Linked DNA regions of Homo sapiens. The protein of the gene in region 1 interacts with the protein of each later gene in a biochemical or structural test. Each region holds a gene or a part of one and is shown on either strand. Other genes may lie near its edges. The genes, in order: CRTC2 and MFHAS1.

What was found.
Region 2: the proteins of CRTC2 (region 1) and MFHAS1 form a complex in vitro, tested with the Homo sapiens proteins (one large-scale study listed by BioGRID).

What each region holds. Positions count from the first base shown.
Region 1 is NC_000001.11:153,955,635-153,960,126, forward strand, and holds the start of CRTC2 (CREB-regulated transcription coactivator 2), read right to left. Parts: upstream 2,979-4,492; 5' UTR 2,864-2,978; coding exon 2,711-2,863; intron 2,597-2,710; exon of another isoform or gene 2,450-2,596; coding exon of another isoform or gene 2,427-2,449; intron 1-2,426. Other genes in the region: SLC39A1 (zinc transporter ZIP1), read right to left, coding at 4,464-4,492. UniProt on the Homo sapiens protein: Transcriptional coactivator for CREB1 which activates transcription through both consensus and variant cAMP response element (CRE) sites.
Region 2 is NC_000008.11:8,789,093-8,792,898, forward strand, and holds part of MFHAS1 (malignant fibrous histiocytoma-amplified sequence 1), read right to left. Parts: intron 1,343-3,806; coding exon of another isoform or gene 1,315-1,342; exon of another isoform or gene 1,233-1,314; intron 1-1,232. UniProt on the Homo sapiens protein: Probable GTP-binding protein. Functions in innate immunity and more specifically the inflammatory response as a regulator of the Toll-like receptor TLR2 and TLR4 signaling pathways.

The DNA.
Region 1 (4,492 bases):
GTCACTCCACTCTAGCCGCCTGGGTGACAGACTGAGATCCTGTCTCCAAAAAAAAAAAAGTTAAAAAAAAAATAAAGAAATTATCTGCCAGAAAAAAAAGGCCAGTGTTGGGGTTTGAAAGGTCCACCGAGATTTGGTGCAAATAACCCACCAGAGCCCATCTGCAGACTGCCCTCATCAATGATATCACTACTGCTTGACATCATCCTGCCAGGCAGAGACAGATACTCTGCTGAGGGCCTGTCTCATTTGGCATCACTCTAAGCAGAGTCCCTGAGGGGCTGCCAGGAGCTCCCGGGCTACTCACAAGGGGGAGTGCCTATTAGGAACCTCTGCTTTCTTTCCAGATGCGTCCAGGACTAATTGAGAGATTAAGAGGAAGGCCACAGGTGGATGTCACAGAGCCATTACTGCCAGCCTCTTTCCTTCCCACTCTGGAGAGCACAGGCTTCTGGGCTCTGCCACTTGCCCAGCCTCAGGAAGGCTACACAAAGCCTGCACCTCCCAAACTAGAACATCCAAGGAATAGCAGCTCTCCTAGCTGGAAAAACAGCACCAAAACCAAGGGACATTCTTCCACTGAATCCTAAGGCTCTTGAATTGGCAGGGAAGCCTGGAGAAGGAGGGTGGACAGAGAGCAGCAGCCCACTCCAGCATGGGCCAGGGCCATCTTCCTGGTCTCATCCTCACTTTGGGGAGCTATGTCTGGCATAGGCGTAAGACAGCCTGGCATGGGTTTAGCCTGTGTACAGACATCCTGTCTCTGTGAGAGGTGAGCATCTATTTCCAAGGCTCAGCCCCTGCGACCAGCCAAATAAACAGGCCCAGGGCAAGGCCATGGGGAGGAGGGCAGCTGAGGAGGGGCAAGTTCTAAGAGCTTCCAGGGTCACACTCTTGTACAGAAGCCAACATCAGAACTGACATTCTGTTCCAGGAGGTCAGCCTAGTGAGCACTGTGCTGACCTCTGGACCACTTGAAGACCACTTGAGGTCTCATATATGGCAACCCCAGTATCTCAGTGGTATAGCCTCCCATGGCCATCTCTGTCTCAAATGAGCCCTCCCACCTGGCCAGATAACAGGCTGAGTCCCAGATCTCTTGTCCCTAGCTCTAGACTTTTGGGTCCCCTGGCCATGTATGCCCACTAGACTTTTCTGTGTAGCTGAGAAATTAACCAATAGGAGCAAGGTGGGTAGAAGGGGCCTTTTAAGAGATCGAGGCACCGTAAAGAGAAGCCCCAGCTTTTGAGTTTCGCACAGCCTTTCTTTGCACATACGAGCCCTAAGATCCCACCATGCCTCTGCTAGAATCACAGTCCTGAGGGCAGGGCCTCACGCTATCAAGATCAGCCTCCCATCTTCCTGTCTCTGTCCCCAACATGATGAAAAAGCTCCTAAAGGGGAGCAGTCTACAGTTAGATAATAATCCTCACAATGGTTACAGTGGGTTATGCACACACATGCATTTAAGTGTGCACATGCGTGCACAGACACCCTCCCAGATTTGCCTCCCCACCTAACTTCTGACTCCCACAAACTAGGGCACATAGTCCCTAGAGACTCAAAGGGGAAAGGACGAGAAAAAAAAAAAAGTAACAGAGTCAAGGGGGATACACACAAAAATACAACCAGAGTCACAGTCATAAATGCAACCACAGTCAGACCAGCAGAAAAAGGCTAGAGATGTTGTAGTAATGTTCCACCATCAATCCTTAAATTCCTTCTAGCTCTCTGCCATGAGGAATCATTGCAATATCCTTACCTACTGTTGTTTTAGAAGAATGTGTCCCTAAATTAAGACTGCATACCACCTAGGCGGACTCCTACCCCTTGGTCCCTCTGACCTCCAGCCTTGGAAAGCAAGAAACCAAGCCAGGGGGGCTTCAGAGGCAGCCTGGCAGAGGCCTGAAAGTTCTTTCAAGAACTCCTAGGAATGAATATTCTCAACACATAGAAGACCCTCCAAGGCACCCTACACACTAACCCACAAAGCAGCCAACTCCCTAGAAAGCTCAGCAAACCATAGAGTTCCACACAACTTATGGTCGGACGGTTACCCAGTTGTCGGATTCAAAACCCTACCTCTCCTCCAAGGAGGCCAGGACAAAACACCAAGCAATGGACCTCACCTTCATTCACGTCAGGAAACCACAAGAAGTATTTGAAAAAGGAAGCAAAAGGACGGGACGCAGGAGGGGACTTCCTGCCCCACTATACACAGCACCGCTCGTTCAAACCACTCAAGGGGCCCTTTCCCGGGGGCACCAAAGCGCAGAAGGCAGAGGGACCAGTTTGGAGGAGATCACAAACTCAGAGGAGCCAGGTTACAGACAAGCAGCCCTCCTCCCAGGCCATACCCCAATACCAGGCATGCTTCAGTAGCGTCCTCGAGGGGACTCCGTCAGGGATGCACAAGGACCACTCACCTCCTACCTCCGCCGGACTTCATCTCCCCTCTCCGCCCACTCCCACCTCACGTACTCGGCCCCCAGTCGCCTCTACACCCCGAACCTCTCCGGTGTTTCGGTCTCCCCCGGCAAAATCCTTCTTCCTGCCCCTCGGCCCTCAACCTGCGCCTCCCAAACGGCGGCGCCCGCGTCCCCTGCTCTGTTCCGCCTCCTTCGCTGCGGCGCCCGCCCCCGCCCCGCCTCTCCGGTCTCCGCTCCGTAACTGCTCAGCTCTGCTCCGGCTCCCCGGCGCGGCCCCTCACCCGGGTGGAGCCGATGTCCATCATCACCTCCTCGAAGGCCGCCGTCTCCTCGGCCTGACGCTGCTTCTGCAGCGCAATCTTCTCACTAAATTTGCGCGGATTGGAAGCCGAGGCCGTGGCCGAACCAGGCCCGTTCGCCCCCGACGTCGCCATCTTCCTTCCCCGTCCCTCCCTGCCACCCTCCCAGTACCAGCCGCGGCCTCCGCCGCGGCCTCGGCCCGGCTCCTCCAGCCGTAGCCACCGCCGCCTCAGCGAGCACCGCGAACCCGGCCCCAGCCTAGCCCTGACCTGTTGCGCGCGGGGGCCGCCGGGAATTGTAGTTTGTTTACGAGACTCCTTCACATCCCCAGTCACGCAGCACTAGGAGGAAACGGACTCCACTTCCCAGCAGCCCTGCTGACTCCGGAAACTGGGGACTTGGCTCCACCCTCTCGGCTACTCCCTGAGAGGTGCAAGCTGGGAAGAGTAGTTCTAAATTAGCCCTGAGACTACGAACGGAAAGGAGAGAGGGATTGAAGAGAGAAGAAAGGAAGAGGGAGGGGAGGGAAGAGAAGGGAAGCCGAGGGGTGGAGACCGGGAAAGAAGTACCAAGACACAAAGGAGGAAAAATTAGGTCATCTTCAGGGAAGGGGACTATCGGGTCCTGAGTGAAAACAGTGAGACCAAGAATCTTAAAACAGCTGTAAACATCTGGGACTCAGGCCCTCTCAGGCTGGCCACATGCCCACCCCTTTCCCAAAACAAACGAATCAGATACTGTACAGATGTCTAGAAACATCTTTTATTTGGGTAACAGGTCCCAAAACAGGTCAGTTAATAAAATAGATTCTAAAGAATATGTCCCTATGCACAGCCCTCCCTCCCCAAAAATAACGCTGGGGGTAGGCATTGCCCTTCCCCCTTGGGCTCCTCGGGTGTATTTAAAAAAATGTTTTGGCAGCTCAGTGTTTATCATCTGGGCATGGGACACCATGTCCATGTCCCCATATTCCTAGGGTACAGCAGCAGTAGATGGCTGCAACAACCTTCCTCCTACCCCAGCCCAGAAAATATTTCTGCCCCACCCCAGGATCCGGGACCAAAATAAAGAGCAAGCAGGCCCCCTTCACTGAGGTGCTGGGTAGGGCTCAGTGCCACATTACTGTGCTTTGAGAAAGAGGAAGGGGATTTGTTTGGCACTTTAAAAATAGAGGAGTAAGCAGGACTGGAGAGGCCAGAGAAGATACCAAAATTGGCAGGGAGAGACCATTTGGCGCCAGTCCCCTAGGAGATGGGAGGAGGGAGATAGGTATGAGGGTAGGCGCTAAGAAGAGTAGGAGGGGTCCACTCCAAGTGGCAGGGTGCTGAAATGGGCTAGGACCAACAGGACACTGACTCTAGGTTTATGACCTGTCCATACCCGTTCCACAGCAGCTGGGTACCCACCTCCAGCCTCCCATGTGAGCCTGTCCTTATGTATAGTGTCCAACCTCTGATTCTAGCAGTCAAGTGTCTTCCCCAATCCTAATGTCCCCTGATATGTCTCTAGCGACTTGACCATCTCTTGTTCCTTGGGACTGGGGCCAGCCTCTTGTCTGCCCACTTCCCTCTCATTAGTCAGATAGCCCCAAAGGCTCTATCTTTAGCTCCCAGAGAACTTTTTGGTCCTCAGTATTTCCCTTCCCCTTTCCTTCCTATTCCCCACAACTGGGGGAGGGAAGGGAGAACAGGGGCACCTGATCATCAATCTCCCCTGCCCCTCTCTTGAAGCCCCCTAGATTTGGATGAAGAGCAGGCCAGTGA
Region 2 (3,806 bases), on another chromosome or scaffold:
ACTCAGTCACAGGAACCTTGGCAGAGACGGGGGAAGTGGTGGCTGGGGGGGTTGGGCCCTAGAGGGAAGCCCGAGGCTGAAGCTGAAGATGTGGGTCAAATTCATTCATGTCACGACACAGATGAGATGGGATAAAAGGTGTTGGAGAATTACTACATATAGGGAAGAAAGCAGAGGAAGGCAATGAGGCTTACGGACTCCTAGCTTGGAGCCGATGGTACAAAGCTACGCTGTTACCCAAGACAGGTCACAGACTGAGGAAGAACTTTGCGGGAGGAAGGCAATAAATTCAGCTGTACACCTGTGAAGCCTACAGACATCCAGGGATGATGCCACGTGAGACATTGGAAACAGAGGTCTGGGGCTGAAGGGAGGGTCCAGCCTGGGGGGCACCCAGCCCCCGAGTCCTCCCAGGTTAGGGAATTGAAATCTGCCCTTCCAGGATGCAACAAAGAAATTATGACGCAAGGTACCGAGACACTTAGGCTGAAACTGAAGCCATGGCATGTTGTATTAACCATGTCTTTTATTTTCTGTATTCTGGTGCTTTCCTACTCCGGACCTTGCAAACTCTGGAGGGACTGCCCCTCCTAGGATTAGCCAATTCCTAGAGATGGTAAAACAATTTGCCCGGAGTATACTCTTCCAATACAAACCAACTAATCCTGAACCCACACCTGGAACACCTCCTTTACTGGCTCTCACACTCCAGGCCACCATCCACCTGCCCTAATCACCCCTGAGCCAGGTGCCAGACGACTAAGGCAACCCCTCTGCCCCAGGGCCACTGAGATTATTCAAATAAGCCTGTCCTAGACCTGCCTACCCGGCCTTGCCCGTTCCTCCCCTCTCCCCTCCTGCCCCCAGTCCCTCCCTTTCCCTACTTGTGACCATCCCGGTACTTTCCTGTGTAGTTCCTGAAGGTGTGGACCCACTTGATGTTTTATTTCTGCATAATATTAACATTTTTCAAAAATGACTTCCTTTTTTGAACAAGGATCTAAGATCACTGTCTATGCAATATCATAGTAAATTAAGCAAAAGAATCAAGCAGTTCCCTTCTTCCTAATTCCCATATGCAACTTGATTCTAGAGATGTATAAGGTTTGTCTAGGATTCCTGTTCTCCAAAATCTCTTCATCCCAACACCCCCATATCCCCCCTAATCTCTCTGAGTCCTCAAGAGGGCCTTACCTATTTAAGAAATTCTCTCTGTTTCACGGAGACTTACCCTTAAAAATTGGTGCTCCTAAAGTCACAGTTTGGGTACAGTAAAAATGATGGCATAAGGAAAAGAAGCACTATCTTTTCCACTTAATTTTCCAAGAAAGTATGAAGATACCTAAGCAGAGAGGGAAAAATTCCAGTATCAATGTGGCTGACGGGAGACTAAATAATTAAAGAAACACAATTCCTCCTAGCTTGTTAAAACAGCAAGGCAAAGAGCTGCCTCACTCCTTGCATAGAACAAAACAAATCAATGCAAATCAATGTGAAACACCCCACAGGCAACCTCCACATGTGGCCTTTTCTTATAAAATACCATCCCATCCTCACCCTCTATATTTTAAAATTCTGTGGTCAGTGAAAAATTCTCCATTGTGATGAAGCCTAATTCATATCACGCCACTGCTTTTTAAAAATATTTTATCAAGTTCATGCTAATTTGTGTGCTGTTAGGCATACGTGGCCTGTTTATTTGGTGATATAAAGGCTACAGACTTCATCCTGCTTTTTATGAAAGGCTACTGCAACTGGTCTTAAATGTCTTTATGTCAAAACGATGTTACTGCCAAAATTCCTGTGCAAAGTAACCACGGTACTTCTGAGAATACTTACAAACAGCTAGCAAGTAACTGGAATTTAGTGGGGATCTTGCTTGAATGGGAACTCTACAGTATAGAGGCAATAATCCAAGATTTTAAAAGGGTATTTCGAAATGCAATAACTCAGCCTTCCCCTCTATTATTATTAGTACTTCCTAAAAAAGGAGAAAGCTTAGCTCAACCATTTTCAAACCACCACCCCACCCGTTTTTTTTTTTTTTTTTTGCTAATTCTGTTAACACATGATCAGCCAAAATCAGAATGAACTAACTTCTTCAGTCTCAGAACTCCCACCATTCCCCACATATCGGAGCACAGACAGATACGGTATCGCTGCAGGAGAAACGTCAACCATCAGGAAATAAGAGTGACACATGCCCATTTCCTGTATATTCAAGGGTCAGTCCATTAAGAAACCACATGTTAGAATGTGGGTCGCATTCCAGTAATGCCTCAAGGTAAAACATTTTCATATGATGACCTGTTGAATTTGCTTGGTCTTTTACCCAAAAATCAGTAGATAAACTGGGTTATCTGGCAGGTTATCAAAGAGTCTTCAGTTTGGTGGAGGACGGATTTGCTCTAAAGCTCTTTAGAAGGAGAAAGAGAAGCATTCTGCAGGAACCCTAGAAATGAAACGCAACCAGCAAGCTGCCATTTGTCCAGAGAAGCTCACACTCCCTGGGAAATGGAATATTGGGTCTCAACCTGAAGAGTAGCTGGACAGAGACAGGAATTCACAAATAAAAGCTTTAAAAGATAATGCGGTCTACTTGCTTCCTACCTTGCCCACGGGAAGTATAGGTTTGCCCTATCTTTTGACTCCTAATGTCAAGGCTCAGTACCCCTGAAATATCTAGGGCCTAATTAGGCTGCCATGAAGAAGTTCTAAAGGAGGAGCTCTCCAAGCAGCTCCAGCTCCTCTCCACCATCCAGGAAATAGGGGGCTGGCAGTGGCAGGAGCAAGATAAGCCACTGCCTTTAGACTGAACTGTGCCAAGGATAACGTGTTTATGAGAACCTCTTTAAAACTCAGAAATCGGCCAGGCACGGTGGCTCACGCCTGTAATCCCAGCACTCTGGGAGGCCGAGGCAGGCGGATCACGGTCAGGAGATCGAGACCATCCTGGCTAACACAGTGAAACCCTATCTCTACCAAAAATACAAAAATTAGCCAGGCATGGTGGCATGTACCTGTAGTCCCAGCTACTCGGCAGGGATAACAGGAGAATCATTTGAACCCAGGGGGCAGAGGTTGCAGTGAGCCGAGATCATGCCACTGTACTCCAGCCTGGGTGAAGGAGTGAGACTCTGTCCCAAAACAAAAGCTCAGAAATCTGCTTCATACTAACACACCAGCCTGCAAAACCATTCCTGAAAGTGACACTAAAAATATTTATTGGCCGGGCGCGTGGCTCACGCCTGTAATCCTAGCACTTTGGGAGGCCAAGGCGGGCAGATTATCTGAGGTCGGGAGTTCAAGACCAGCCTGGTCAACATGGTGAAACTCCTTCTCTACTAATACAAAAAATAAAAAATTAGCTAGGTGCAGTGGCGTGTGCCTATAATCCCAGCTACTCTGGAGGCTGAGGCAGAAGAATTGCTTGAACCCAGGAGGCGGAGGTTGTGGTGAGCCAAGATCACGCCACTGCACTCCAGCCTGGGCTACAGAGTGAGACTTCATCTCAAAAAAATAACCAAAAAAACAAACCAAAAAAAACTTACTGACTGCATGAACTAGGTGTTGGATAAGACACAAGTTAACTGCAAATAGGCAGGAGATTTCTTTTTGGGGTGAAGGAACGTTCTAAAATTAGATTGTGGTGATGGTTGTATAAATACAACTCTGCAAATACGTTAGTAATCATTGCACAGGTGAATTTTCTGGTATGGAAATTATACATCAATAAAGCTTTTAAAAATGTATCTGTCACAATCTGTATCCTTGAGGAGGCCAGAATTTTTCAGAGCGACCCAGGC